7 linked regions of the Homo sapiens genome follow. The protein of the gene in region 1 interacts with the protein of each later gene in a pairwise test. Each region holds a gene or a part of one and is shown on either strand. Other genes may lie near its edges. The genes, in order: GLE1, GPR75-ASB3, FAM3B, ING5, PDS5A, MTF2 and LHX8.

The links.
Region 2: the proteins of GLE1 (region 1) and GPR75-ASB3 interact in binary tests that used the Homo sapiens proteins (3 or more experiments, as listed by UniProt).
Region 3: the proteins of GLE1 (region 1) and FAM3B interact in binary tests that used the Homo sapiens proteins (3 or more experiments, as listed by UniProt).
Region 4: the proteins of GLE1 (region 1) and ING5 interact in binary tests that used the Homo sapiens proteins (3 or more experiments, as listed by UniProt).
Region 5: the proteins of GLE1 (region 1) and PDS5A interact in binary tests that used the Homo sapiens proteins (3 or more experiments, as listed by UniProt).
Region 6: the proteins of GLE1 (region 1) and MTF2 interact in binary tests that used the Homo sapiens proteins (3 or more experiments, as listed by UniProt).
Region 7: the proteins of GLE1 (region 1) and LHX8 interact in binary tests that used the Homo sapiens proteins (3 or more experiments, as listed by UniProt).

The regions. Positions count from the first base shown.
Region 1 is NC_000009.12:128,532,009-128,536,413, forward strand, and holds part of GLE1 (mRNA export factor GLE1), read left to right. Parts: intron 1-656; coding exon of another isoform or gene 657-683; intron 684-1,504; coding exon 1,505-1,647; intron 1,648-1,752; coding exon 1,753-1,943; intron 1,944-4,346; coding exon 4,347-4,405. UniProt on the Homo sapiens protein: Required for the export of mRNAs containing poly(A) tails from the nucleus into the cytoplasm. May be involved in the terminal step of the mRNA transport through the nuclear pore complex (NPC).
Region 2 is NC_000002.12:53,669,105-53,672,597, reverse strand, and holds the end of GPR75-ASB3 (GPR75-ASB3 protein), read left to right. Parts: intron 1-1,907; coding exon 1,908-2,095; 3' UTR 2,096-2,305; downstream 2,306-3,493. Other genes in the region: ASB3 (ankyrin repeat and SOCS box protein 3), read left to right, coding at 1,908-2,095. UniProt on the Homo sapiens protein: Probable substrate-recognition component of a SCF-like ECS (Elongin-Cullin-SOCS-box protein) E3 ubiquitin-protein ligase complex which mediates the ubiquitination and subsequent proteasomal degradation of target proteins. Recognizes TNFRSF1B.
Region 3 is NC_000021.9:41,343,684-41,348,088, forward strand, and holds part of FAM3B (protein FAM3B isoform a precursor), read left to right. Parts: intron 1-792; coding exon 793-851; intron 852-2,002; coding exon 2,003-2,053; intron 2,054-2,525; exon of another isoform or gene 2,526-2,724; intron 2,725-3,329; coding exon 3,330-3,417; intron 3,418-4,405. UniProt on the Homo sapiens protein: Induces apoptosis of alpha and beta cells in a dose- and time-dependent manner.
Region 4 is NC_000002.12:241,711,679-241,716,083, forward strand, and holds part of ING5 (inhibitor of growth protein 5), read left to right. Parts: intron 1-299; coding exon 300-393; intron 394-4,405. UniProt on the Homo sapiens protein: Component of the HBO1 complex, which specifically mediates acetylation of histone H3 at 'Lys-14' (H3K14ac) and, to a lower extent, acetylation of histone H4. Component of the MOZ/MORF complex which has a histone H3 acetyltransferase activity.
Region 5 is NC_000004.12:39,900,855-39,905,259, reverse strand, and holds part of PDS5A (sister chromatid cohesion protein PDS5 homolog A), read left to right. Parts: intron 1-1,068; coding exon 1,069-1,220; intron 1,221-2,799; coding exon 2,800-2,913; intron 2,914-4,405. UniProt on the Homo sapiens protein: Probable regulator of sister chromatid cohesion in mitosis which may stabilize cohesin complex association with chromatin. May couple sister chromatid cohesion during mitosis to DNA replication.
Region 6 is NC_000001.11:93,120,389-93,124,793, forward strand, and holds part of MTF2 (metal-response element-binding transcription factor 2), read left to right. Parts: intron 1-160; coding exon 161-284; intron 285-4,405. UniProt on the Homo sapiens protein: Polycomb group (PcG) protein that specifically binds histone H3 trimethylated at 'Lys-36' (H3K36me3) and recruits the PRC2 complex, thus enhancing PRC2 H3K27me3 methylation activity.
Region 7 is NC_000001.11:75,147,602-75,152,006, forward strand, and holds part of LHX8 (LIM/homeobox protein Lhx8), read left to right. Parts: intron 1-985; coding exon 986-1,081; intron 1,082-4,405. UniProt on the Homo sapiens protein: Transcription factor involved in differentiation of certain neurons and mesenchymal cells.

The sequences.
Region 1 (4,405 bases):
ATTCAGCCAGTGGGGTCCACATGGTTGGCTTTTTTTTTTTTTGATAAGAGAACTGAATGACAGGATATTTCTGAAACTTTTGTGACATTTCTTGAAGTGATTAGGAACTTGACAGGGTATTTCTCAACTGGAGATGCTGTATTAATTAAAACATTGACTTCAGGACTTCAGGTAATGGAAAGTAATTCAGATCTGCTTTGCTTTTTTTTTTTTTTTTTTTTTTTTTTTAGGGAGGAGATGGAGTCTTGCTTTGTCACCCAGGCTGGAGTGCAGTGGCACAATCTCGGCTCACTGTAACCTGCGCTTCCTGGGTTCAAACGATTCTCCTGCCTCAGCCTCCCCGAGTAGCTGGGATTACAGGCACCCGCCACCACACCTGGCTAATTTTTGCATTTTTAGTAGAGACGAGGTATCACCATGTTGGTCAGGCTGGTCTCGAACTCCTGACCACAAGTGATCTGCCTGCCTTGGCCTCCCAAAGTGCTGGCCCAGATCTGCTTAAGCAAAAAAAAAAAAGCATTTATTGGAAAGATAAAGAAATATCCTACAGAACCCAGTGGCAGGAATGAGGTGAGGTCTCAGGAGCTAGAAACTTTAGTTCTTTTTTCCTCTCTCATCTCATCTGTCCTCTCTACATCTCCATTCTTATTTTATAGATTGCCGTTCTTTGGTCTTCATGGCAGGTACGCAGCCCCCACTGCTTGTGAGTGTATGTGACACAGGGCCAGCTACCTCAAGGAAGTGACTCTTAGTTGACTGACTGGCTCAGCTTGACTGCCTCTAATCTAACTGTAGCTAGTGTGGGGGTGGAGCACACAAAATCTTTGGTACAAATATAGCTGTTACGAATCCACTTCTGTGTCTCTGAGGACGGAAGAAGGCAAGTCCTGAGAAGGGGGCATATCATCATGAGCTGGTTAGATCCTTTAGAAGGTTTTTCCTAGAGATGTGACTAACTCCTCTAGAGATACCAACCACAGTCCATGGGGTCTGTAACAAAATGTAACACCTCTTTCTATACTGTTTATCCCTTCATTTTATGTGTACAGTAAGGGATACTGTTTATCCCTTCATTTCTGTAGGGCAGCACAGCTGGGTTTTTGTAGATGCTTTGTAATTACAATGATGAAACAGGCTGGGCATGGTGGCTCACGCCTGTAATCCCAGCACTTTGGGAGGCCAAAGCGGGCGGATCACTTGAGGTCAGCAGTTAGAGACCAGCCTGGCCAACATGGTGAAATCCCATCTCTACAAAAAAAAAAAAATACAAAACTTAGCCCAGTGTGGTGGCGGGCGTCTGTGATCCCAGCTACTCAGGAGGCTGAGGCAGAGAATTGCTTCAACTCGGGAGACGGAGGTTGCAGTGAGCCAAGATTGTGCCACTGCACTCCAGCCTGGGCAGTAGAGTGATACTGTCTCAAAAAAAAAAAAAAAAAAAAAAAAAGGAAAAGAAAAAGAGATTGATCTGTGGTTATATCTTTTAATTTCTCTCTATCATGCTCAGGCTCAAAACTGAAGGAGATCTTTGACAAGATCCACAGCCTGCTCTCTGGAAAACCTGTTCAATCTGGTGGGCGCTCTGTGTCTGTCACACTTAACCCACAGGGGCTGGACTTTGTTCAATACAAACTGGCAGAGAAATTTGTGGTGAGAAACCTTGTTGCTAGAGGTATGGGAAGCAGAGGCTGGTGTACAAGATTTCAGCCTTTTTCTGGTATTAAGTTAAAATTGTACCCACCTCTATGTTCTCAGAAACAAGGCGAGGAGGAAGTGGCCTCTCACCATGAAGCAGCATTCCCCATTGCAGTTGTGGCATCCGGGATCTGGGAGCTCCACCCCAGAGTGGGGGACCTCATTCTTGCTCATCTACATAAGAAGTGTCCTTACTCTGTTCCTTTCTATCCCACTTTCAAGGAGGGAATGGCTTTGGAAGACTATCAGAGGTAAAGTTGTTTTTCTCCCTACTCACTATCCCTAGAGTGATTAATGAAATATAAATAGAATTGGAATTTGTTTTTCCCTCCTCACAGCTCCTATTACGTACCTTGAATGTTCTATCAGAAATATAATGTCTTTCGGCCGGGTGCAGTGGCTCATGCCTGTAATCCCAACATTTTGGGAGGCCAAGTTGGGTGGATTGCCTGAGCTCAGGAGTTTGAGACCAGCCTGGGCAACATGGAGAAACGCCATCTCTACTAAAAATACCAAAAATTAGCCAGGTGTAATGGTGCACACCTGTAGTCCCAGCTACTCAGGAGGCTGAGGCACGAGAATTGCTTGAACCCGGAAGGCGGAGGTCGCAGTGAGCCAAGATCGCACCAGTATACTCCAGCCTGGGTGACACAGCAAGAGTGTGTCTCAAAAAAGAAAGAAAAAATATATATACATAGTCTTTTATGTAAACTGGAGAGCCTTTGGGATTTGTGAACTTAGGTGCCAGTAGTCAATGTAGTTTAGTGGAAAGGATACTGGGGTCTTGGAATTTTATCCCTGCTTTGTCATTTAATACCTTTGCAAAAATGGACAAATCATTTAGTCTTTTTGAGCATCTTTTCCTGATTTTTAAATGAGGGTAATGACATCTATTACCTCCTGTGAATTTACCTCATGGCTTACATGAAGCTCAGATTTGATGATGGATATGAGTGCTTGGTAAACAAAGTATTCTACAGATGTAATAATATGTAATAATATATATACATATTTTTTATTTTTTTTATTTTTTTTTGAGACAGCGTCTCGCTTTGTCACCCAGGCTGGAGTGCAGTGGCGTGATCTCAGCTCACTGCAACCTCTGCCTCCTGGGTTCAAGTGATTATCCTGCCTCAGCCTCCCGAGTAGCTGGGACTACAGGCGCCCACCACCACGCCCAGCTAATTTTTATACTTTTAATAGAGATGGGGTTTCACCATGTTGGCCAGGATGGTCTCGATCTCTTGACCTTGTGATCTGCCCGCCTTGGCCTCCCAAAGTGCTGGGATTACAGGCGTGAGCCACCACGCCCGGCCTGTAATAATATATTAATAGTAATGCTGAGTGTAATAATATATTGTTATTTTTTAGCCATAAAAAGTAATCTCTGGGCCAGGTGCAGTGCCTCATGCCTGTAATTACTTTAACAATTTGGGAGGTTGAAGCAGAAGGATCGCTTGAGCCCAGGAGTTCAAGACCAGCCTGGGTAACATAGTGAGACCCTGTCTCTACAAAATTAGCCAGGTGTTGGCTGGGCGCGGTGGCTCACGCCTGTAATCCCAGCACTTTGGGAAGCCAAGGCCGCCAAAGCGGGCGGATCACCTGAGGCCAAGAGTTTGAGACCAGCCTGGCCAATATGGGGAAAACCCGTTTCTACTAAAAATACAAAAAATTAGCTGGGCATGGTGGCAGGCACCTGTAATCCCAGCCACTCAGGAGGTTGAGGCAGGAAAATCGCTTGTACCCAGGAGGTGGAGGTTGCACTGAGCCGAGATCATGCCATTGCACTCCAGCCTGGGCAACAAGAGTGAAACTCTGTCTCAAAAAAAAAAAAAAAAGGCCAGGCGCGGTGGCTCACATTTGTAATCCCAGCACTTTGTGAGGCTGAGGCGGGCAGATCACCTGAGGTCAATAGTTCAAGACCAGCCTGGCCAACATGGTGAAACCCTGTCTCTACTAAAAATACAAAAAATTAGCCAGGTGTGGTGGCAGGTGCCTTAATCACAGCTACTCGGGAGGCAGAGGCAGAAGAATCGCTTGAACCCGAGAGGCGGAGATTGCCTGAGATCGTGCTATTGCTTTCTAGCCTGGGCGACAAGATGGAAATTCCATCTCAAAAAAAAAAATTAGCCGGCTATGGTGGCATGTGCCTGTGGTCCTAGCTACTCAGGAGGCTGAGGCGGGAGGATCACTTGAACCTGGGTGGTGAAGTTTGCAGTGAGCCTTGATCATACCACTGTACTCCAGCCTGGGTGACAGAGACTCTGTTTCCCAAAAAAAAGCAATTTATCTCTAATTTGTCACCCTTATTTTGGCCTTGTCCCAGTGAATTTTTTCTTATTTCTTTTTTTTGAGACACAGTCTTACTGTTACCCAGGCTGGAGTGCAGTGATGCAATCTTGACTCACTGCAACCTCCACCTCCCAGGTTCAAGCAATTCTCATGCCTCAGCCTCCCAATTAGCTGGGACAAACAGGCATGCACCACCATACCCAGTTAATTTTTGTATTTTTAGTAGAGATGGGGTTTCACCACATTGGCCAGGCTAGTCTTGAACTCCTGGCCTCAAGTGATCTGCCCACCTTGGCCTCCCAAAGTGCTGGGATTACAAGCGTGAGCCACCACACCCGGCCAAATTTTTTCTTCCCGTATAGGATGCTTGGTTACCAAGTAAAGGATTCCAAAGTGGAGCAGCAAGACAACTTTCTAAAAC
Region 2 (3,493 bases), on another chromosome or scaffold:
TCACCTGCTTTAAGGTGAGTTTCTATTAACTGACCAATTATTGTTCATGATCCTACTAAGAGGGCTTCCTTATACTTGATAGTTGAACATAGTCAATCTACTTAAACCTTTGGAAAACGGTGGTGTTTGCAGCTTGGGCCTGCTTTCCATATGTATTCCTGCAACTTCCTCCAGTGGCCCCTTTACCTGTGTCTTCCCATCTTTCATGTGAGAACCATCATTTCTCCTTTAAGTTTACAGAAAAGTGTCAAATTTAAGTAAGATATGGATATGAAAAAAGTTAGAAATAAATGTGCGTGCTATATACTATAGATACTGTAATCTTATTATTTATAATAGGGAATCTATGACTCATGATTTAAGAAAATGCCCAGCTTAGACTTAGGTTTTATGTACAAAATCGATAACTTTTGCTTTCTTATTTGGCATTTTGAAACACCAGTTTGAGTGATTTCTTTAATTCTGAATAAACTAAACTAAACCTAAACTAGTAAACTAAAAACGATGATGAGTTAACTTCTATGGCTTGGAAGATATTGAAGATGTTAGAGAATTAATTGGTCTCAAGCCCTATGGGTATTAGAGTTTAAAGAACCCTATACCTGGAATCAGACTAGCTGGTCTGGTATCAGCTGTGCTCTTGATAGTACTTGTCTTTGATGCTCTGATCCTGGTCTGTTCATCATTGTTAAATTTCACAGGGATTTATAAAAGATTTCTTGAATTAACAAAAGGCTTTGGTCCGATTCACATAAAAGCAGACATTAACTTCTTTATTTAACACTTTTCATCTTGGAAAATGAAACTGCTATCATATGATTCTTTTCTTTTTTTTTTTGAGAAGGAGTTTCCCTCTTGTTGCCCAGGCTGGAGTGCAGTGGCATGATCTCGGCTCACTGCAACCTCCGCCTCCCAGGTTCAAGCAATTATTTTGCCTCAGCCTCCCTAGTAGGTGGGATTACAGGCATGTGCCACCACGCCAAGCTAATTTTGTATTTTTAGTAGAGACGTTGTTTCACCATGTTGGTCAGGCTGGTTTTGAACTCCTGACGTCAGGTGATCTGCCCGCCTCAGCCTCCCAAAGTACTGGGATTACAGGCATGAGCCACCGCGCCTGGCCTATCATACAGTTCTTAATTATGTGCATTTGAATTGTCCTTTAATTGGTAGTTAGCTTTTGGCTGCACTGCCTTGCCAGATACACACACACACACACACACACACACACACACACACACACACACGCTTTGGGTTCAGATAGATCTGAGTTTGAATCCTGGCTCTGCTGCTTACTAGCTCTGTGACTTTGGAAAGTTGTTTTTTTAAATTTCTACAACAGCCTGATAATATATACTTCATGAAGTTAATGAAGATAAAAAGAGAATTTGAGTGAAGTACATGGGCTTATGGCATAGAAGGCACTCAGTAAATACTCCCTTTCTCTCAGAGTCAATTAAAAATTTTCATTTTATGTTATGGATAAAAAGGAAAACTTGCAAGCTGTACATCTATTCACTTGATGTGATAGGTCTGGAAACCATTTGTAATGAAATAGATTAAGAGGAAGGTAGCATTTGCTATTGTGAGCTTCCACCATTTCTAAAGTTGGTTCATCCATTTCTTAAGTGCAGGTATTAACAGATCTTTAGAATTTGAGCATTTAGTGTTTGCGGCCCTGGATACTGACTTTGAATGTGTGGCCAACAAACTGAAGGGAGAGGAGCCAGTTGAAGGCTGTAGAAAAGAATAAATAAGGTTTATTGTGGTCATACTGACTCAAAGTAGTCTTCTTTCAAGCAATATATCACTTTTATTACTAAGAGTTGGGGGAAAAAAAAATTTACCTTTATGTGCTATTACATCTTTCTGTTTAAAAAAGTTTCACCTTGCTTTTTTTGTTTCTCCAGCCACTGTTCCATCCCTGACCCATCTTTGTCGTTTGGAAATTCGGTCCAGTCTAAAATCAGAACGTCTACGGTCTGACAGTTATATTAGTCAGCTGCCACTTCCCAGAAGCCTACATAATTATTTGCTCTATGAAGACGTTCTGAGGATGTATGAAGTTCCAGAACTGGCAGCTATTCAAGATGGATAAATCAGTGAAACTACTTAACACAGCTAATTTTTTTCTCTGAAAAATCATCGAGACAAAAGAGCCACAGAGTACAAGTTTTTATGATTTTATAGTCAAAAGATGATTATTGATTGTGAGATAGGTTAGGTTTTGGGGGGCCAGTAGTTCAGTGAGAATGTTTATGTTTACAACTAGCCTTCCCAGTAAAAAAAAAAAAAAAAAAAAAAAAAATTGTAAACATCACTTATATTACTTTATTGCAGCTTCATCACCAGTACATTATATGTTGTAATATTTATTTACCTGATCATTTTGATCATTTTCTGCTTTATTTTGCTAATAAACTGTGATGTTACTTCTAGTGCTAAACATGGCATATTTCCACCTATGATTCGTGTTTACCTGGTATTAGGAGCTCAGAATGGAATGCATAAAGCTTCACTGGAAGTGTATACAACTGTGGTGTAGAATCTGTTATTATTATCATTATTATTTTATTTAGACTTGACTATCTCTTATGTTTATTAAAGAACATGTTTTCCTATTCAGTTGCTTTTTTTTTTTTTTTTTTTTTGGAGACAGAATCTTGCATTGTCACCGAGGCTGGAGTGCAGTGGTGCAATCTCGGCTCACTGCAACCTCTGCCCCAGGGTAATTCAGTCACTTTTATGAAGAATTGATACTCATTGCCGTTTCACATGTAAACTCACAGGAAAAAATTACTTTGAAAGAACATAGAAAATCAATCATATTGCTGGGTTTTCCCTTCCAGTTTCTTTTCATTCTTTGGCAAAACAAACAAACAAACAAAACCAACCAACCCAATTCTAATCTGCAAAGGCAAGAACAGCCCTAAACTCAAAGATGTGCTCAGCTGGGAAAAAAAATGGTTTCAGTTTTGAGATAAATGGGCATGTTAGCACAATTAGGATTTTAATCAGGAGACTGAGAGGGGCATGTCTGTGGCACCATCTTTAAAGAAAGAAAGGGGCCGGGCGTGGTGACTCACGCCCTTAATCCCAGCACTTTGGGAGGCCAAGGCAGGCGGATCACGAGGTCAGGAGATTGAGACCATCCTGGCTAACATGGTGAAACCCCATCTGTACTAAAAATACAAAAAAATTATCTGTGCATGGTGATGGGTGCCTGTAGTCCCAACTACCCTGGAGGCTGAGGCAGTAGAATGGCGTGAACCTGGGAGACGGAGCTTGCAGTGAGCCGAGATGGCGCCACTGCACTCCAGCCTGGGAGACAGAGTGAGACTCCGTCTCGAAAGAAAGAAAGGTAGGTATTACCGAGTTACTTAGTATTATATATAAAATTCAGGTTCCATTCAGCTCTAGAATCATTGAGCAGCTTTGTTCCTATGAAGCAGTAATAGCCAGTTCTACTAATATTATGGTGTTTTTCCTTCTTATT
Region 3 (4,405 bases), on another chromosome or scaffold:
CATATACAACATGCACACACACAATTTCTGTGATCTTCAGCAATAATTACCATCTCCAGGTAAGTCATTTAGTTTTCCTGATTTTAGGGCACAATCCTCTTGAATTTGGCATTTCATATTCTACAATTTAAAGGTTAAAAATTAAGTGACATACTCAGGCATGGTGGCTCATGTCTATAATCCCAGCACTTTGGGAGGCTGAGGCGGGCAGATCACTGGAGCCCAAGAGTTCAAGACCGCCCTGAGCAGTATGGCAAAACTCCGTCTCTACAAAAAAATTTTTAAAATTAGCCTGTTGTAGTGGTGCACGCTTGTACTTCCAGCTACTTGGGAGGCTGAGATGGAAGGATTGCTTGAGCCCGAGAGGCAGAGGTTGCAGTGAGCCACGATTGCACAACTGCACTCCAGCCTGGGTGACAGAGTGAGACCCTGTCTCAATAAATAAATAGATAATAAATTAACAATAAAGTGCATCTGTGAAGAGCCTGAGCTAAATAAATGTTAGTTTTTCTTCCCCCTAGCCATTTGTCTAAATTATAAGATTGAATGCAGTGTCCAGGTCCCCTGAGAGTCCAGGTCCCCTGAGGGACTGAGTCTGTAGACACTGAGAATAGATGTGTGTGGATGAACATGGGGGTGGCGGTCTCGGGAGCTGCACCAAGGCGAATGCAGACTTTCAAGGAAAAGGTGGGGGACAGCAGATGAGACTGACATTTGGTCAGGCGAAGACTTCGCGGAGCGGGGAGAGTCGCACGCCTCTTGGTACTTGACTAATGCTTAGCTCCATTTCAGACTTATGGGAGAACAGCTGGGAAATGTTGCCAGAGGAATAAACATTGCCATTGTCAACTGTAAGTTACTAAACATTTTCTTTAAACTTCTCTAAAAGCTCTCTGGTCAGATTTTCAAAGGTACCTTGGGTTTTCGAGACTTTTGCGCGTGATTTAGTCTAGGTTTGTATTTTAATGCATTTTAAGATTATATACTCAATTATTTTTACAAGTCTCACTTCACAGATTATTTGTGGTTCTAACAACAAATAAACAACTGAAAACCAAATATAGACTTTATTTTAAAAAAAGAAAAAAACAGAGGGATAGGCCAAAGTTAGGGTTAACACCAGAAGGGCCGCCAAGGGGGTGCAGCCTGTGGTCCTGGACTGAGCCTCTCATTTGCTCCCAGAGTCCCAGTGTCTGCTCAGGGGCTGACACCATAGACCATCTCATCCTTCTGTGTGATAAAAGCCACTGCAACCTCGTGGGAAACAAAACTTGGCCTTTCTCTTAGGTCTGGAATAAAGCTCTCTCACAGTTGCCTTTGAGGGGCCCAGAGGAGAAGGAAAGGGTTTCCCACAACGTCCCTGTGAGTGAGTGGGCCGCATAGCCCCGAGACGTGAGGGCTGTGGAAGTGAAGATAAAATGCTCCCAATCTGACAGCCCTGAAGGAGGCTGTAAAGTAGGAAGTGGGCAGGCTGAGGGGGCTCTGGTGTTTCTGTGGGATGAGGCGGGTGGGCCTGGCTGAGGGGGCTCTGGTGTTTCTGTGGGAAGAGGCGGGTGGGCCTGGCTGAGGGGGCTCTGGTGTTTCTGTGGGATGAGGCGGGTGGGCCTGGCTGAGGGGGCTCTGGTGTTTCTGTGGGATGAGGCGGGTGGGCCTGGCTGAGGGGGCTCTGGTGTTTCTGTGGGATGAGGCGGGTGGGCCTGAGTGAGGGGTCTCTGGTGTTTCTGTGAGATGAGTTGGGTGGGGGAGGTATTAGTGTTCCATCAGGTGTAACCCAAAGCAAACTGGAAGAAAGTTCTAGCACAGCTTCCAGCACTTTCCTTTGACCTGGTTTTGGGGACTCTCCTCAAGGGGCCCGCCCTGTCTCTGCAGGCTGGGTCATTACATCAGTGGTGTTTGCTGGAGATAGACAGGGAAGAAATATTTCCTTCCCCAGGCCCTGGTGCCACAAGTGCGCCCTAGTTCTGTGAACTTTCTTTTAAAATACCATTTCTTTTATTTTCAGATGTAACTGGGAATGTGACAGCAACACGATGTTTTGATATGTATGAAGGTGGTAAGAAAATTTTTTCTGTTAAAATTCAAATGAATTTTAAACAGAAAATTAAGATTAAAAAGCACAAAGAAAAATGTCAACCATTTTTATTTTGTCTACTAGAAAAACGCCAGCAGCTCTCCTGAGTAATCTAGAGTGGTCTTATGTAGATCCTCTTAAACTCTAATTGAATTCATAGAACATTTGAAGGCATCATCTAGAAATGTCTTTTCTTCTGTTAGTTTTCCTCAGTCTTTCTCTTTTTAGCTCTCATGATATAATAAGAAAGAGAAAAAGCCTTTTTTTTAAAAAAAAAAAAAAGCCAAATACATTATATGTAAAATAAAGCCACCAGCATCCAGCCCTAAATATCATCATCCTTTGAAAGCTGTCACGATTACTCCTGGTGACTCACAGTGCTCTGCTGGGCTCAGGGCAAGCATTCCCGGAACCCACGGGTGCCCAGTCTTTCTCGATGGTCTCTCCTTTCTAGGCACTGACTCTTGACTGCAGTTGTTGGCCAGGATATACTATCCCCTCTTATTTTTATATATCAATGAGACTTTCAAAAACAAGTTTTTATAAAGATAGTGAAGACGAAGAATAGAAAACGCCTGCACCCACCCAATAAGAAGGACACAGTTGTACTCTGCAGTTAACCTAAGCAGAACAGTAAATAATGAGCCGCAGCGGTGAGTAACAGGGTTTGAGGTTTACCTTTATTTTATAAGGCATAGATAAGTCTCTTGGCACAGACTTGCCCACGGTCCACATGTCTCGTATTTGAGTTCTGTGGGAGTCTCTCTCCTGCACACGTCGGTGTGTTTGCAAGGCCACTCTGCTCAGTGGTCGTGGTGTGGGTGTGGGTGTGGCCCTTTATCAGTGACTACAGAGAACACTCCACCTGTGCCACACAGGCTGCTGCTTGTTAAGAGTTTGGTGATCTCATTTCTAAGGAGGGTTTTTTTTTTCTACCAGGGGCTCCACTTCTCTTGTTTGTTGGTCAAAAAAGCTCCTTATCTTGACCCCCTTTCACTACTGCCCTGAACACCTATTGCAAGTGTTAGGTTCTTTTCCTTCTACGCTGTGCCACTCACCTCAGATAGTCCCTATGGTACCCCAGTGAATGTTCACACGTCCAGAGCTAGCACACCATCTGCAGGGTTGAGCAGCGAGCGCTGGGACCCCCAAGGATTCAGAATGGACACAGAATGCAGGTGCAGGAGGAAGCCCAGCACCCAAGGCAGAGCCTCAGTGAACAGCAAAGACCCTAAAACTGACTTGCATCCCCCAATAGATAACTCTGGACCGATGACAAAGTTTATTCAGAGTGCTGCTCCAAAATCCCTGCTCTTCATGGTGACCTATGACGACGGAAGCACAAGGTGAGTGGGTGTAGGTCTGTCACAGCGGTGGGCAAGAGAAGCCAGCTGGGGCAGAGGCTGCCAGGGTCTCTCAGTGACATCCTCTGGGGACAAGCAGAAAGTCCAGGAGCAAAGTACTTCTCTAAGGAAAAAGAATGAAAGATCATGACAAAATAGATGGCATTTCTTTAAAAAAAAATTAAATCACTAACCACAGAAGTACTAGAACCTAAATCAAAGGAGTATTTCAAGGAATCAAGACAAAGCCACTGTTGACCATAATTAGGACAGACAAACTAACCTCCGGACAGAAAGCCTAAACCCAGGGTGGCATTAATAGTTACAGCAATGTGAAAGGAAATTGAGATAATTTCCCTATAGAAAGAGGAAAAGAGGCTGGGCGCAGTGGCTCACACCTGTAATCCTAGCACTTGGGAGACCGAGGCAGGCGGATCACGAGGTCAAGGGTTCGAGACCATCCTGGCCAACATGGTGAAACCTTGTCTCTACTAAAAATTAAAAAATTAGCCAGGCATGGTGGCATGCACCTGTAGTCCCAGCTACTCAGGAGGCTGAGGCAGGAGAATCGCTTGAACCCAGGAGGCGGAAGTTGCAGTGAGCCAAGATTGCACCACTGCACTCCAGCCCGGTGACAGAGCGAGACTGTCTCAAAAAAAAAAAAAAAAAAAAGAGGAAAAGAATAAAGAAATACACACATACACATTCAATACTGTACTAGAAGTGGATGTAGCTCAGTGCCTCTCAGAGTGTGTCCTACTAAGTAAACCAAACCTGTGTCTTTGCTGCAGAATGTCTAAGAACCTTCAAAGTGCTTATTTGTGTGGTGAATTTCCCAGACAGGGCTACTGACCACAGCATTTCCCAAATTTATCAGATTCCTTTTTTCATGGAGCATCTTACCAAACTGAAGTTCCTTGGCACATACTTTGAAAAATTCTGACTTAACTCACTTAGAACAATCTAAACTTAACTGTTTACTTTCCTGTCT
Region 4 (4,405 bases), on another chromosome or scaffold:
TCACTTGAGGCTAGGAGTTTGAGACCAACCTGGGCAACATAGCGAGACCTCATCTCAACAAAAAATTTAAAAATTAGCCAGGTGTGGTGGTGCACACCTGTGGTCCCAGCTACTCGGGAGGCTGAGGTGGGTGGATTGCTTGAGCCCGGGAGGTCAAGGCTGCGGTGAGCTATGATTGCTCCGCTGCACTCCAGCCAGCCTGGGAGACAGAGCGAGACCCCTTTTTAAAAACAAAACACAAAACTTGCCTTGCTTTAGAGAATTCTATAAAAATAATTTGCATCTTGATTATTTTTCAGAAGGCCGGGGTCAGAAAGAAAAAAGAGGGTCCCGGGGCCGAGGCAGGAGGACATCAGAGGAAGACACACCAAAGAAAAAGAAGCACAAAGGAGGGTAAGAGGCTTTCCCCTCTTTTTCCCAAAAGAACGAATACCCATAGCCTGTATCCCGGATGTAGGAACACTGATGGAAGCTGACCCGAGTGAAGTGCACCCCGTGTGCCGGGTGGTATTCTGATTCTTACGCTGCGCGCCTGTCGTCAGCCTGTCCTCACCGCAGCCTTTGAGGGGGTGCCGTTGTCAGGGGCATTTTCAGTGTCGCAGGGACCTGCCCAGGCTTTAGGGCTGCTGTGGTGCGGCTGGGCTGCACCTGGAGTCTGACTCCAGTGCCTGTCCTCTTAGCCACAGTGTGTGCTGCCCCACTAGGGACAGGAGGATGGTGAGCAACGTGTTGTTGACAGAGGCCAATGTAGACCACTCTTTAAGTAGCTAGATTTCTGTATATCTGTCAGTTATTTTATGTGTCAACATATAGTGTGCATATATTCATTGTTAATTATGTGGCCACATTTATTAAATAGACATGTCATTTAACTTGAAGTTTTTTGAGATACTTTATTTAAAGCATTCTCCCACTGACACCCTCCCTGCCAAAGGTGTTGTATACCCTCCAAAGAGATCGTAGCATTACCTCAGAGGAGTGACATTTAGACTAAAGAGAAAATGCTGAAATGCCACGAAGCCTCTGTGGAGATGATCTCACAGAGGGAGGGTCAAAGAGTGTAAGTTTTGGGCACGGTAGCTCATGCCTATAATTCCCGCACTTTGGGAGGCCAAGGCGGGAGGATCACTTGAGCCCAGGAATCTGAGACCAGTCTGGGCAACCAAGTGAGTCCCCCATCTCTACAAAAAATAGAAAAAATTAGCTGAGGGTGGTGGTGTGGGCTGTAGTCCCAGCTACTAGGGAAAGCTGAGCTGGGAGGATCATGAGCCACGATCGCACCACTACATTCCAGCCTGGGCCACAGCATGAGACTCTGTCTCAAAAAAAAAAAATAAAGAGAAAAAAAGAGTTCTTCTTGACAAAAAAGGGACAATTTTCTTTTTTTTTTTTTTTGAGATGGGGTTTCGCTCTTGTTGCCCAAGCTGGAGTGCAATGGCGCCATCTCGGCTCACTGCAACCTCTGCCTCCCAGGTTCAAGCGATTCTCCTGCCTCACCCTCCTGGATAGCTGCAACTACAAGTGCGCACCACCATGCCCGGCTAAGTTTTTGTATTTTTAGTAGAGATGGGATTTCACCATGTTAGCCAGGCTGGTCTCGAACTCCTGACCTCAGGTGATCCACCTGCCTCGGCCTCCCAAAGTGCTGGGATTACAGGCATGAGCCATCACACCCGACCCAATTTTCAGTTTTTTTTTTTTTTTTTTTTTGAGATGGAGTCTTGCTCTGTCCCTCAGGCTGGAGTGTGGTGGCGCGATCTCAGCTCACTGCAACCTCTGCCTCCCAGGTTCAAGCAGTTCTCCTGCCTGAGCCTCCCAAGTAGCTGGGACTACAGGTGCATGCCACCACACCCAGCCAATTTTTTTTTATTTTTTGTAGAGATGAGGTTTCACCTTGTTAGTCAGGATAGTCTTGATCTCCTGACCTCGTGATCCACCTGCCTTGGCCTCCCAAAGTGCTGGGATTACAGGCGTGAGCCACTGTGCCCAGCCCCAATTTTCAGTTTTTTAGCTAGTGCTTAGCCTTTTGGCCGGGCGAGGTGGCTCATGCCTGTAATCGCAGCACTTTGGGAGGCCAAGGCAGGTTAATCACCTGAGGTCAGGAGTTCAAGACCAGCCTGACCAATATGGTGAAACCCCGTCTCTACCAAAAATGCAAAATACTTAGCTGAGTAGTTGGCAGCTGCCTGTAATCCCAGCTACTCGGGAGGCTGACGCAGGGAGATTGTTTGAACCCGGGAAGTGGAGGTTGCAGTGAGTCAAGATCACACCACTGCACCCCAGCCTGGGTGACAGAGCAAAACTCCGTCTCAAAAAAAAAAAAAAAATCCCAACATTCTCGTATTGTAAAGTAGTGCACAGATACAGAAAACCGCACAGAACAAACATGGTTTAATTAATTTCCGTAAAGTGAAGATCTTTGTAAGTAGCACCTAGTCAGTGATTAACTGCTGCTGGAAGGCCTTCCATATGCCCTGTTAAAATCATAAACTCCTCCTGCCCCCAAATAAACATGATCCAGATTTCTATAGTGTTTATTTCCTTGTTTCTTTAATAGTTTTATAGTGCATTCCTAGACACTATACATTATAGTTTAGTCCTGTTGTTTTTCTAACCTTTTAAATTAACTTTATTAAGGAATAATTTACATACAATAAAATGTTATTCTAAGTGTACAGTTTGATGTTGCATTCAGTTCCTTTAAAGTTATGGAAGTATTCAGGCTTTCTATTTCTTCTCGAGTCAGTTTTGGAAAAAATCTGTGTCTTTCAAGAAATTTGTTTCATGTAAGTTGTCAGATTTTTTTGACATCAGGTTGTTAATAATTTTGCATTATTATGGTTCTGATGTGTCTGTTATGATGACCCCTCTTTCAGTCCTGATACTGGTAATTTATGTTTCTCTCATTTTGTCTTGATCCTTTTTTTTTTTTCCCTGAGGGCAGGGTCTAGCTGTGTCACCTAGGCTGGAGTGCAGTGGCATGCACATGGCTCACTGCAGCCTCCACCTCCCTGTCCCCAGGCTCAAGTGATTCTCCCACCTCAGCTCCCGAGTAGCTGGGACCACAGACATGCGCCACTATGCCTGGCTAATTTTTTGTAGAGACAGGGTTTCATCATGTTGCCCAGGCTGGTCTCAAACATCTGGGCTCAAGCAGTCCGCCTGCCTCAACCTCTCCGTGTGTTGAGATTACAGGCGTGAGCCACTGCGTCTGGCCGTCTTGATCTTTTTAGAGAACTAGCTTTTAGTTTCATTATTTTTATTGTTTTCTCTATTTTTTTGTTTGCTATTGCATTTGTTTCTACTCTCTATTTCCTGTTTTCTACTCAGGTTTACTTTGCCTATACTATTCTAGCTTTTTAAGGTGGAAGTAGCTTGCATAATTGATTTTTATATCTTCCTTGTTCTAATTATTATCTTTGTTGCACTCCACAAATTTTGATATATTATGATTTTGATATAATTTTGATATTGTTTTAAATTTTTATTTCGTTTACCTATTTAAAATATTTTAGAATGTTTTTCTTGTTTTTTGAGATGAGGTCTCACTCTGTCACCCAGGCTGGAGTGTAGTGGCATGATCCTGGCTCACTGCAGCCTCCACCTCCTGGGCTCAAGAGATCCTCCCACTTCGGCCTCCCAAGTAGCTGGGACCACAAGTGCATGCCACCATGCCTGGCTAATTTTTTATATTTTTGGTAGAGATGGAGTTTCACCATGTTGCCCAGGGTGGTCTTAAACTCCTGAGCTCAAGTGATCCACCCACGTTGGCCTCCCAAAGTGCTGGAATAGAATTTTTTTTTTTTTTTTTTTTTTTTTGGTGAGACGGAGCCTCACTCTGTTGCCCAGGCTTGAGTGCAGTGGTGTGATCTTGGCTCACTGCAACCTCCACCTCCCAGGTTCAAGCAATTCTCTTGCCTCAGCCTCCTGGGTAGCTGGGATTACAGGCACGTATCACCATGCCTGGCTAATTTTTTTTTGTATTTTTAGTAGAGACAGGGTTTCACCATGTTGGCCAGGCTGGTCTTGAACTCCTGACCTCAGGTGATCTGCCTGCCTTGGCCTCCCAACATACTGGGATTACAGGCGTGAGCCACCGCACCTGACCTAGAATTTTTTTTTTCATGCTACTTCTTTGCCCTATAACTTATGTAGAAGTATGTGTCTCAATTTCCAAATAATTTGGGATTTTTCAGATACCTTTCTAATTTTAATTTTTTAGTTGACTTCTGTTGTGGTCAAAGAACATTACATAATTGAAATCCTTTGAAAGCCAGCTAATTTTTGTATTTTTAACAGAGACAGGATTTCACCATGCTGGGCAGGCTGGTCTCGAACTCCTGACCTCAAATGATCTGCCCACCTTGGCCTCCCCTCCCTGTAAAGTGCTGGGATTACAGGCATG
Region 5 (4,405 bases), on another chromosome or scaffold:
CTGACTCACTGCACAGCTGATTGGAAGCTCTGTTTGAGTGGGCAGGTTTTGTCAGCTTGTGAGCATATTTTTAGATTCACTGGTTAGTCAGCCAGCTCAACTCCTAGATTCACTACAATTTTAGATTTACTAGGATTTTAGATTCACTGGGTAGTCAGTTCCCCAAGTCCTGAGCTCAAGCGATGCACCTGCCTTGGCCTCCCACAGTGCTGGGATTACAGGCATGAGCCACCATGCCTGGCCCAGAATTCTTGATAGTGAACTTTGTTCTTATCCGAAGTTAACATCTAAAGGGATGTAACTGGCAATTAAAACATTCCAGATAATAGGGGTTTTGTTTGCAAGGGGAATTATAATCACTTCTAAAACTTGGTGAATTTTCTTTCAATAGAATCAAATGAACTCTCCCATAAGGTTATTAATAGTTTTCAAGGGAAATAAAAAATCAGTAACCTGTAGTTCTAGGTACTCAGGATGCTAAGGCAGGAGGATCACTTTAGCCCAGAAATTTGAGACCAGCCTAGGCAACGTAACGAAACCCCATTTCTTTAAAAAGAAAAAAGTAGATCATTTAGCAATATTTGCATTGGAAAATTTCTAAATAGGAACAGATTCAAAATTGTTTGTAGGCTGGGCGCGGTGGCTCACGCCTGTAATCCCAGCACTTTGGGGGGCCGAGGCGGGCGGATCATGAGGTCAGGAGATCGAGACCATCCTGGCTAACAGGGTGAAACCCCGTCTCTACTAAAAATAAAAAATTAGCCGGGCGTGCGGGCGCCTGTAGTCCCAGCTACTTGGGAGGCTGAGGCAGGAGAATGGTGTGAACCTGGGAGGCGGAGCTTGCAGTGAGCCAAGATCCTGCCACTGCACTCCAGCCTAGGCGACAGAGTGAGACTCCGTCTCAAAAAAAAAATAAAATTGTTTGTAAAGCCTCTTTTGAAGAGAAATAGTGTGCCAGTTTATAAAGGCACACATAAGACTGTACAACCTAATGAAGCCAAGGCAGTCTTTGGAGATTAGTACAGAGTTTTGTTATCTTGCTCATCTAATAAATTTTATGCTTTTTAGTGGCGAGTAAGAAAAGAAGCTATGATGGGTCTGGCTCAGCTTTATAAGAAATACTGTCTTCATGGTGAAGCAGGAAAGGAAGCTGCAGAGAAAGTCAGCTGGATAAAGGACAAACTTCTGCATATTTATTATCAGAACAGCATTGACGACAAGTGAGTTTAATATGTTGGTAGAATGGTTGAGTGTAAAACTACTTTTTACTTAAAAAATGTCTATTTAATATTTTAGTAATTTCTTATTTTTATGTATTTACTTCATAAATAAAATTAAGTTTATTCAACTTGATTAATCATTTATTTCTAAGTTTAGAGATAGCTTTTTACATATTTTTATGTACTGTGTTTAAACAAGACTGTCCACGATTATAAGGTAGCCTTATAATATGAAATAGGCATGAACTTTGGAGTTAGAGACCAAATGTTCACTCTGCCCTTTATTAGATGTGTATTCTTACATAGGTTCATTAAGGTCTTGTGCGCTTCAGTTTTATATAAAAAGGAAAAATAATAGTGCCTTTCCCACAGGATTATCATGTAGATTAAATAAAATAATGAATATAAAGCATCCTAGCCCAATGTGTGGCAAGAGAGCACTATTGAGTTAACTGCTAGTTACTTTCCTTTTTACACCACTACCAATAGAGGAATTACTAAGTTGTTTTCATTTTCTGAATATTACTTATAATTCTATATTGGATCGTACAAATGATACTTGGTGTGTGCAGAATAGTTTCCATTGTTTTGTTTAATTAAACTAACTTCTCTGGCATCACTGGATATGTATTTCATTTGTTAATTAAGAGATCTTGTATATTCTTAATCCAGTGATATTAAATAATAGAAGCAAGAAGATACAAGCAATAGGTACTAGCAAGAAGGATATTCCAATATTGGTAAGGAATTTAGATCATGGAGAGAACAATAATCAGATGTACACAGGAAAAACTACATTTTCTGGAAGTAATATGAAGGGGGGTCCCCCTGTTTTTAACTATGTGACAACATGGAAAATGGGCTGAACTGTAATCAGAGGAAATTAATGAGTTTCTTGAGAATTAGCTCTACCGCGGATCATAGCTTTATATGTTGCGTTAATGAATTTGCTTTTGTTCTAGACTGCTGAAGAAGAATAGGCGGAACAGCCTAGCACCCTGTGTTTAGGAATAACATTTAAACCTTCTAGAACAAATGTTTCATACTGACAAATTATAAAGCCACAGACAGTAACCGTGTCTCTAAAGTTAAACTGTACTGAAAGCTTTCCAAGAAGGAAGTCATTATAAACTGATATCTTCCATTGTATGTGCACACATAGCTATTATCTTGATATGGTATCCTGGCATAAGATGGTTAAAACTTAAAATGTTGGCTGGGTGTGGTGCCTCATGCCCGTCGTAATCCCAGCACTTCAGGACGCTAAGGCAGGCGGATTGCCTGAGCTCAGGAGTTCCAGATCAGCCTTGGCAACATAGGGACACCTTGTCTCTACAAAAAATATAAAAATTAGCTGGGCATGGTGGCACGCGCCTGTAGTCCTAGCTACTGGAGAGGCTGAGGTGGGAGAATCGCTTGAACCTGCGAGACAGAGGTTGCATTGAGCCGAGTTTGCACCACTGTACTCCAGCCTGGGTGACAGAGCAAGACCCTGTCTCCAAAAAAAAAAAAAAAAATTGCTTCTTAAAAATGGAATAATTGTGTCACTTAGGTTTTTTTTGTTGTTGTTATTTCCTAGACTGTTGGTAGAGAAAATCTTTGCTCAGTATCTTGTCCCCCACAACCTGGAAACAGAAGAGAGAATGAAATGCTTATATTACTTATATGCTAGTTTGGATCCAAATGCTGTAAAGTAAGTTACTTTTCAAATAACTGCTGTATTTTCTAAGGATTTCGTAAAATTACTTCATCTTATCTAATTAGTTGTTATTGATTGGATTGTTGCTGCTTCTATAGTTGAATCAAGAACCTCAGGTAAATATTTATAGACAAAATGTTACGATTTATGTTCAGGTTATTCTTATATGTGTAGGCTTGTTTGGCAGCCAGGTCAGTAGTAGGATGGTTTCAGGTGTTCAAATAAATGACCACGTCAAAATACCTGTGGCTAGTGTCTAAAACTACTGGTGCTTTATCCTTCCAGACTAAATATTAAGCCTAATAACTGAATACTGATTCTTTGTTGGGTGAACATATTCAGATCTTCTCTGTGTAAGATGGCCATATGATTAATGGTCCAACTGGATTATTTTCAGACTGAAAGGGATCACTATTGATATTTTTACTTAAATAGCATAATCAAACTGTCCCAGGCCAACCAGGATGTGTGGTCATTTCACTTTAATAGATTTTTTTTTTAAAGTAAATGTTACAATATATACATATATTATGTTGTACACCATCGTATATGTAATTTTTGTCAAAAATACACAAAGTAAATGAGTGATGTCATTAAGAATTCTGATCTGAAGATGGAAGGATCTTTTCAGCCTAGAAGCTTGACCATCCTGGGCAATGTAGTGAGATTCTGTCTTAAAAAAGAGAGAGAATTTTGAGTTAGGAATTTGACTGTTTGCCATTGTGGCTTCTTCAAGTGTTCCTGCATTATTAGATTAAGACTGCATTTTTAGGCCGGACGTGGAGGCTAACCCCTGTAATCCCAGCATTTTGGGAGGCCAGGGCAGGCAGATAATTTGAGGTTAGGAGTTCGAGACCAGCCTGGCCAACATGGTGAAACCCCATCTCTACTAAAAATACAAAAATATTAGTTGGGCATGGTGGTGCACGCCTGTAATCCCAGCTACTAGGGAGGCTGAGGCCGGAGAATTGCTTGAACCCAGGAGGCAGATGTTGCAGTGAGCCGAGATTATCCCATTGTACTGCAGCCTGGGCAACAGAGTGAGACTTGTCTCAAAAAAAAAAAAAAAAAAAAGAAAGAAAAGAAAAAAAGACTGTCATTTTGGCAGAAATTCTATTACGATAGTGTTGTATCATGGTTACTAATCCCTTTCCTTGCTTAAGGTTTTGATGTTTGTTTACATTTCAAAATATCTGACAAAGAGTGTTTAGAGATTAGTAATTCTCAGAGGTCATCTGGGCACCTGGAAATATGGATGGGATTTCTGAGAGAAGAAAATCTGTGTTCCTGGAGAGAGAAAAGTTTAGAATAAACACAATAATGTAAATTTGGCATCTTGAATCTGCATCATTTTTGATACTTCATTTTTCAAAATAGTCTATAGTGCTTCATGTATATGCCTTAGCCTTTTTAATAAGGCCTTCATGATTTGATCTGTGTCTGTGGAATGCTCCAGCTTCCTTATGCTCCACACACATGCCTTGTG
Region 6 (4,405 bases), on another chromosome or scaffold:
TCTAGTTATTTTTATGTGTAGTGATTTATTGTATTGTGAATATGACTATCCACCTAAATATTTCTCTTTGCATTTTAATTACTGTTTTATAAGGAAACCGTGATTTTTTAACAGTAACCAAAAACATTGTTTTGTGTATTTGATTATTTTCGGATTCCAGGGTAGATATAGCACACCTATGCCTTTACAACCTAAGTGTTATTCATAAGAAGAAATACTTTGATTCTGAACTTGAGCTTATGACATACATTAATGAAAACTGGGATAGATTGCACCCTGGAGAGGTAGGTGGTCTGAGAACTAACTTCAGTAGCTACTTGATGTCTTTTTTGTTTTGTTTTGTTTTTCAAAAAACAACTGAGACACATGTATAAGTCAGACAACTAAAATAGAATTTTATTTTTAGTTCTGGGGACAAATAAGTTTGGTATGGATATCAGGACCAGCCTTCTCATCCTCCTGTGTGTTTGTTGCCTGTTGACTCTGGAAATTTGTAGAAGGAGGAGGTATATTATTTGATTCTTTCATTTTCTGAAGTGAAAGTCATTGTAGTTAAAGATAGAAGGGAGGGAGAAATCTTTAGTATTGGGTATCTTACTTGTAGTTCAACCTCCTTTTCTTCTAAGTTTTCTATAAACTTAGAGATATAACCAACATTCTTCCTTCCTCTCTTGTTGGTACTCCTTTATATATTTCTGACTTGTAGGAATGGTGGGATCTAATAATATTGTTAGAAAAATGAGTTGTAGAGTGAAGCTGCCTGAATAGAAAATTATCCCCTCTCATTCTGACATCTCATTTTGCTTCTCATTTTTGAAGTGTAACTACCTATGCTGGTTTACAGTCTTTTTTTAAATGAATTTAAAAGTAATGTGTGTTCATTAAAGAAAATTTTGAAACTAATGAATAGCAGAAAGAGAAAAGTAACTAGAATAAGTTTAATAGTTAGGGACCTTATTTTTAGCTTTTATTTAGAATTACTAAAGTACATATATTAACTACTTTTAGTTAAAACTAAAAAATTTGTTTTATAATATGGAATTTGATATGTATATCTTAGTCATGCTTTTTTTTAGGTAAAAATTTTGCACACTGATTTGAAGTTTAGGAAGAATTTCTTGATTTGTAGCTTTGAGACACGAAGGACATCCTATTTCATATCAAATAGGATATCAAAGGGCTTTTTGGGGGTTTATGGGATATCAGGGAGAACATAATGCATGATTTAGTTTGTAGTTTTAAAATCTAGGATATTATTGAAATTCAATTGATGAATTTTTGAATTCATCATTTGAGTTTTGAATGTTAGATATTGGATTATCATACAAATTTTTGTTAAGTTTTCTGTTAAATACTTTTTTTTTAGATGAAGTCTGAGAGAAAGTGAGTGATGTGTACATTTGATTTTTTTTTTTTTTTTTTTTTTTTTTGGAGACGGAGTCTTGCTCTGTCACCCAGGCTGGAGTGCAATGGCGTGATCTCAGCTCACCGCAACCTCCGCCTCCCAGGCTCAAGCCATTCTCCTGCCTTAGCCTCCTAAGTAGCTGGGATTACAGGCACCTGCCACCATACCCAGCTAATTTTTGTATTTTTAGTAGAGATGGAGTTTTGCCATGTTGGCCAGGCTGGTCTTGAACTCCTGACCTTAAGTGATCCGCCCACCTTGGCCTCCCAAAGTGCTGAGATTACAGGCATGAGCCACTGGGCATGGCCACATTTGATAAATTTTAATAAACTGATTAGTAATCAGAAAGTAAGGGGTAAGGCATTAGAAGTGGCTATAGTGGTTTTTATAATTATCTTAATATTTAATACTATAATACATTTGTTTAAAAATTCTTTCTAGCCATTATTCTTTTAGCACTTCATATGCAGATACATATGTATACCTGTTAGTACATTGTCTGCATTACATGATGAAATTCTGCAGTAGTAACTTGATGTAGACATTGGGTATATATAATATAAAAACTCAAGTTGTGTTTATTTCAAATGCTGTCCTTTTTAATTAAAATTTAAATTTTAGTGTTTAGATTTTATTTGAGAGGCTGGAAATATAAGAAAATGAAAATCACATTTAGTATATTTTTCAAGAAAAGAGTTCAGTTTATGAATTTTGGGTGTCCCAGCTCCAACTGAACTTCTGAAACATACTAGAAAAAATTTGCTTCAGTAATAATACATGTTTTTATTTCTGTAGCCTATGAGGTAATGTCTTAGAAAAAAAGAAAAAGTTTTGCAAATTATTTCCACTTTTTGACCATCAAATTTATTACTAAAACAAGAGACTAATAATTTCTTACTGTTCTTTCTGTGGATTAAAATAAGAAAATATTCAGACTTCTTAGATGAGACATCTCATTCACAGACTTTGGTAACTGACAGATTGAAGTTAAGGTTTCTAATTTTCTGTATTTTATATTTTTGTACTGTAATTATAATTGGATTTTAGGGTGAGTTTTTAATAATAAAGAGATGATAAAATTTATGCTAGTTTATCATGTTTATTCAGTGTTTTTCATTTAGATTACTTTCAAATGTTTGTAGTGATCAATAAAAAGGTAACATAAATAATGGGTCATTCCAAATTATTTGAATAGAAAATTTTTGATAAACTAAAAATGAATTACAAATTGAATTTTGTCACTAATCCAAATTTAGGTTAACAAAAATTTACTTTTGTTTATATTCTTGTTCCAAATCTTATAAAATGCCATTAATTATTTTCAAAACATGGGAAGTAGTGTATGCTAAATATAATGTTTATATTTTATAATTGAGTACCTTGGAGTACTTTAGTCATTTTGAACATCAGCTCTTTCTTTTTTTTTTTTTTTTTTTTTAAGAGACAGGACAGGAGAGTCTCTCTCTCTCTTTTTTTTTTTTTAAGAGACCCTTGCTCAGGCTGGAGTGCAATGGTACAGTCATACATAGCTCACTGAAGCCTTGAACTCCTGAGGTCAAGTTATCTTCCTGCCTCAGCAATTCTTGTTATACGTAATATAGACTAAAGCGCCTGCTCTAGAAATTTATCTTCAAAAATGAAACAAAATAGAACAAAGGTTGTGATTTTAGTTTATCTAAAATGTGGAGTTTCCTTCCTCTTGCCACCAGATCAGAGAAAAAATTTTGTAATGATATAAGTTGATTGAGATTTTTTATGGCATTTTGCGTAGGAATATATATTGCACAACTAGGCAGTTATCCACATTTATTATCCCTGAACTTTGAATTATAATTTTACATATGATGAGGCTGGCTAAACTTTAATGGTATTTTTTATTTTAGAAACCTAGTAAATACATATTTACATTTGTAATTACTTGCTGTAATCTTACATTGAATCAGTTGTATTCTGTTTCGTGTATTGTGTCCCCCCCCCCTTTTTTTAATAAAGGAAGCACTGTGACTGTTTTTATTTTAAAGACTTTTTTTTTTTTTTTAAGAGCAGATTTAGGTTGTCCCCTTCTGCCACACATGCATTGCCTCCTCCATTATCAACATCCCTCCACCATAATGGTAGATAGTTATAATTGATGAAGCTACATCAATACATCATTATCATCCAAAGCTGTGACTTCTTTTAGTAATAAAAAGAAGTTTCAAAAATATTACACTTTTGGAGATAATATCCTGTCATACTGAAAAGCCAAAATGTAACATTCATGTATCATATTTTTTTCTTAGTTGAATACGGTATAGGATTGTTATGAAGAGAAGATAAAACTTTTGAATCATTTTAGAAGATAATGGTAGTATTACATTGTTTCCTTATGTAGTTTTTGTACTTCTTTTGGCTTGGTACCTAATGATTATCATATAGATTGAGTGTAGCTGTTTGAGGAACTACTATGTTTTGGATTATTTTCTTTGAGATAGTAAAAATACTTAACATTTGAAACCATGATAAACTTTCTTAAGGTTTTTATGTAAAATGAAGTCTCATCTGTTGTATCAGATTGTTTTGGGGAGTTTAAAATGAGATATTAGTACTTTTTGTAATCGCTTATTGTCATTTGTGTTTGATTCTTAAAGTTATTTGAAATCCTAGTTCTGTAATAACCACTCTTCTGTGGTCTTAAATTTTAGAAACCCTGAGGTTGATACCAGAATAATTTATGGAGTGCTACTTCACTTCTGAGGGAGGTAGGGAGAAAAGCAAAGATGAAACTCAAGAAATACTGTGGTAGAAATGATACTAGAGGAAAATATACAATAGAGGTGGAATAATATTTATAAGTGGAAATTATAAGAAATCTGAACAAAAATTCCTTGGGGCTTAGAGTGTTATAATTAGCATATAGTATGGTGGTTAGCAACAAATTACCTAAGTTGTTGGGATACTTAAGCCCAGGTGGCTTGGAACTTAATATTGGTAGTTGAAAGGAAGAGTTATACTGTAAGT
Region 7 (4,405 bases), on another chromosome or scaffold:
TAGATTGGTTACCCACATCCTATGCCTGTAGACAAGCACAATCACATTGGGTGCCAAGCTCTTCTCTCTCATTCTTCATAATAATACATTTTTTACATTTTGTAATGCTTCCCTCAGTTGACTGACTTTTAGTAATAAAATTCAAGTATCTCACTTAATTCTCATAATGATTCTCTTTTCTGAAAGAATTCAAAGTTTTTGGCTTGTGCTTATATTCTGGTACTCTCTCCCACACTACTCTTCTCCCTTTATCTTTTATTATAGGTAGTCATTGGCATGTCGGCATCTTTCTGCCAGGAAATTAAATCCAAAGAGTTTTGTTTCATGTTTCACTATCTCTTAGCACTTGGCATAGTGGTTTCAATCCAAAGGCTTACATCAGAATCACCTGTAAGCTTTTAAAATATATACATGTTTAGACTCTGGTAAATTCTTATTCAGTGGACTGGTGAGTGTCTCTTTTTAGACACCTTTTTTTTTGCATAGAGCTAGTGCTCAAAACTATGATGGAGTTGTTACAATTAAGTGGAATCCTTCTGTTGATCTGTATACTATTAGGTATTAGGGGCCTTGAACATCTTTAGCTCAGGAAAGGTTGGAGACAAATGTGATATGATTTTTGTATTAAGTTTTCAAATGTTGGCAGTTTTTAACAAAATGGAAAAAACAATAAATGAAACTCTTGCTATTTGATTTGTGGGTTATAAGATTGAAAGAAAAGAAAAGGTGAGCTTATTTTTAACAGCATAGTTGAGAGAGTTTTACATTGAAATGGATTTTTTTAAAGTTCTCAGCATAGCAACTTGTGTATAAATTTACAAAATATGCATTCGTTTTCACTTACCCATATTTCCCCATACCGATTTTCAAGTAACAAAAGTATCCCATGTTCTTGTGCATGTCTTACCTCTTATGATAAAAATGCAGGAAGAAGACTGAGCTGCTTGTTTTTAGCTATTTACTACATACATGTTTTAAACAACAGGTTATGCAAGCACAATTTGCTCAGGACAACAACCCAGATGCACAGACACTCCAGAAATTGGCAGAAAGGACAGGCTTGAGCAGACGTGTGATACAGGTGATTACTTTACTTTTTTTTTTTTTTAAGGTTTTTAAAAAATAGATATTGGGTCTCCCTATGTTGCCCAGACTGATCTTGAACTCTTGAGCTTAAGTGATTCTCCCACCTCAGCCTCCCAAAGTAATGGGATTACAGGATGAGCCACTGTACCTGGCCACAGGTGATTAACTTAAAGGTCAATCAAGAGAAACAAAAAGTTCTAATTCTGGGTATTTATAAGTATGCATTGGTGTTTTTTTGTGTGTGAAGAAATGTGAAAACATTGCTTTTTCATTTTAAGTCTCTTCACATTCTAAATCAAATTTTTAAAATGTAATGATTATCCTGCTTGGGCTAGGCTACCATTTGTCAAATGAGTCTTTGCTCATGTTACTTCATTCAGTACTCACAGCAACCCTAAGATCCTCAGGCTAAACATGTTCCAAGATAAATCTTGCTCTAAGGTCAGTGTTTTTCCTACTTTTTTTATGATTGTGTGTGTGATGGCTGCTGATGGCCTTTGCCAAAGATCCAGGGAGAGGAACTGGTGTGAACAAAGCTGAAAAGTGATGAATTAGTGCAAGTTTTTTCAAATGTAGAATTTATGTTTGGAAATAGTGGGAAATGAAATTGTTGGAGTTAAAGTTGGAGAGGCCTGTGAATGCAGAGTTCTCTTATGAGCAGGTAAAAGCCATGATATGTGATTTTAGGAAGAAAGGGCTAGTCACAGCACATGGGAAGAACTGGAGTTGGGAGAGACTAGATAGAGGTAAGCAGCTTAGTTGGAAGGCTGGAATGCCCAGCAACGTAGTGTGGTTTTGTTGTTGTTGTTGTTGTTGTTTGTTTTTTGTTTGTTTGTTTCTGAAGAGACACTTTACTGGGGTAGAATTCATTTGGGAAACTTTTTGAAACAGGGTCATGGGTGGCCTAGGCTGGAGTGCAGTGACGCAATCACAGCTCACTGCAGCGACCTCCAGGTCTCAGGTGATCCTCCCACCTCAGCCTCCCAAATAACTGGGACCACAGTTGCACACCACCACGCCTGGCTAATTTTTAAATTTTTGTAGAAACAGAGTCTCACCGTGTTGCCCAGGCTGGTCTCAAATTCCTAGACTCAAGTAATCCTCCTCCCTTGGCCTCCCAAAGTGCTGGAATTATTGGCAATGAGCCACCATGCCCAGCTGAGAAACATTTTATTGAGTGAACACTGATGACAGTTGATGGATGCTAGAAAGACAAGAAAGAATTGGTAACTGCAATGGGGAAGCAGAGAGGAGTCAAAGAGTAAATGACTCTGCCAGGCTCAGTTGCTCACACCTGTAATCCCAGCATTTTGGGAGGTCAAGGCAAATATGTCACTTGAGTACAGGAGTTTGATACCAGTCTAGGCAAGATGGTGAAACCCCATCTCTACAGGAAAAAAAACAGCCAGGCATGCTAGTGTGTACCTGCAGTCCCAGCTACTTGGGAGGCTGAGGTGGGAGGGTCACCTAAGTCCAGGAGGTTGAAGCTGCAGTCAGCCATGATAGTACCACTGCACTCCAGCCTGGGTGATGGAGTAAGATCCTCTCTCAAAAAAGTCAGTGACTTATAAATTTCAAGTCAAAGTAATCTTGGGAATGGTGCCATTGACAGGAATGTGAAAGTCAAAAGAAAGCTGGATTGGAAGTTGGACCCTTTTAGCTGTGCTAATTATGCAGTGATGGTGGCAGTTAACTATGCAAACAGGTATTTGAAAGAATGAACAGGACTCAAGCAAAGAGATCTAATGCCATGAAATTAGATAAGATCCTTTAGAAAGAGATCATAGGGTATAAAAGGTGAAGAACGGGTTTCAGAGAGGAGAGCAGGGTAAGAGGTGCTATTTAAATGGGACGTAGTAACAGCCAGAGTTGAGGAAGGAGTCGGGTGGAGAAGAAGCATGGAAGCTGAAGAAGTGGGGTGAATTCAAGAACGAGATGGCCAGCTGTGTCAAGATTATCAGAGAGACCAGGGAAATGGAAAATAATTTTATTTCTTTTTTTTTTTTTTTTCGAGACAGAGTCTCTGTCACCCAGGCTGGAGTGCAGTGGTGTGATCTCGGCTCACTGGAACCTCCGCCTCCCGGGTTCAAGCAATTCTCCTGCCTCAGCCTTCTGAGTAGCTGGGATTACAGGTGCAAGCCACCATGCCTAGCTAATTTTTGTATTTTTAGTAGAGACGGGGTTTCACCATGTTGGTCAGGCTGTTCTCAAACTCTTGACCTTGTGATCCGCCCGCCTCAGCCTTCCAAAGTGACGGGATTACAGGGGTGAGCCACCGTGCCTAGCCGGAAAATAATTTTAAATAACACCGGAAGTTCAAAAAATTTAAGGAGTGAAAGCAAGTAACCATAAAAGGCAAGAGGAAACTCAGGGAGGGGAAAGGCAAATGTCTTCATTGCACATATTTTATTTTGTTTCTTAATTTGGGTGGTTGATACATGGGTACTTATTCTTCTGTAAGCCTAAAGGTTTCATAATTAACAAATCACCTGTACGAAGAAGCAGATGGAAAAGACCTGATGATACTGCAGCTTCTCTAAAGACCTAGGGTTCACAGTGTTTTAATTGACTGCAAGGTAATGAGGCTGTCTTAGGAGACAAGTTCTACCACTTCAGCACTTTCAGATATCCAGATTATTGTGCTTATTTCAGAGTGCCAAATTTTAAGAAGGGACTAATAAGCAATCTGAAAAACATACTACCTCAAAGGCTACCAGGGTTGTGAAAGATTTAGATCATGCCATAATATTAAAGGCAGCAGGGATATTTATCTGGAGATAAGGCCAGGAGATGGTAAGAGAAAGAGTAATATCCAGAGTAGGTGTCTTTAAATATTTGTGAAAGGCTTCCCTGCAACGGAATGTAGAAAAAGGCACTGGTGTTCACTCATAATGAATTTTCTCATTATTGAAAGGCTACACAAATGGCACGGACTACCAAGGAAGGTAGTGAGTTTCCTCTGCCTGGGAGAACAGTTTTCTTTGGCAGGTAGTTCCGACTCCACGGGCTAAAAGTTCCTTCTAATTTAAGACTCTGTATATTCATAACAATGATAGCTTCAGGTAAGTCAGATGCATGACTTATATCATTTTGAAGTTGGAAGCAAAGAAGAAGGAGAGTTTTCTTAGAGCTTTTCATATTTGAAGGACTAAGGAACACAGGCAGACATCTGTCATGTAATTTCCAGGCATTTAGGTTACTAGTACTATGAGCAAGTTAACTTTGTCCTAAGCCCTACCATTTGGAGAATATATTTTGAATGTTGGCTTTCAATATGTTAAGGTTGAACATTAAATATTTTTGATATGATTCCAAAGGA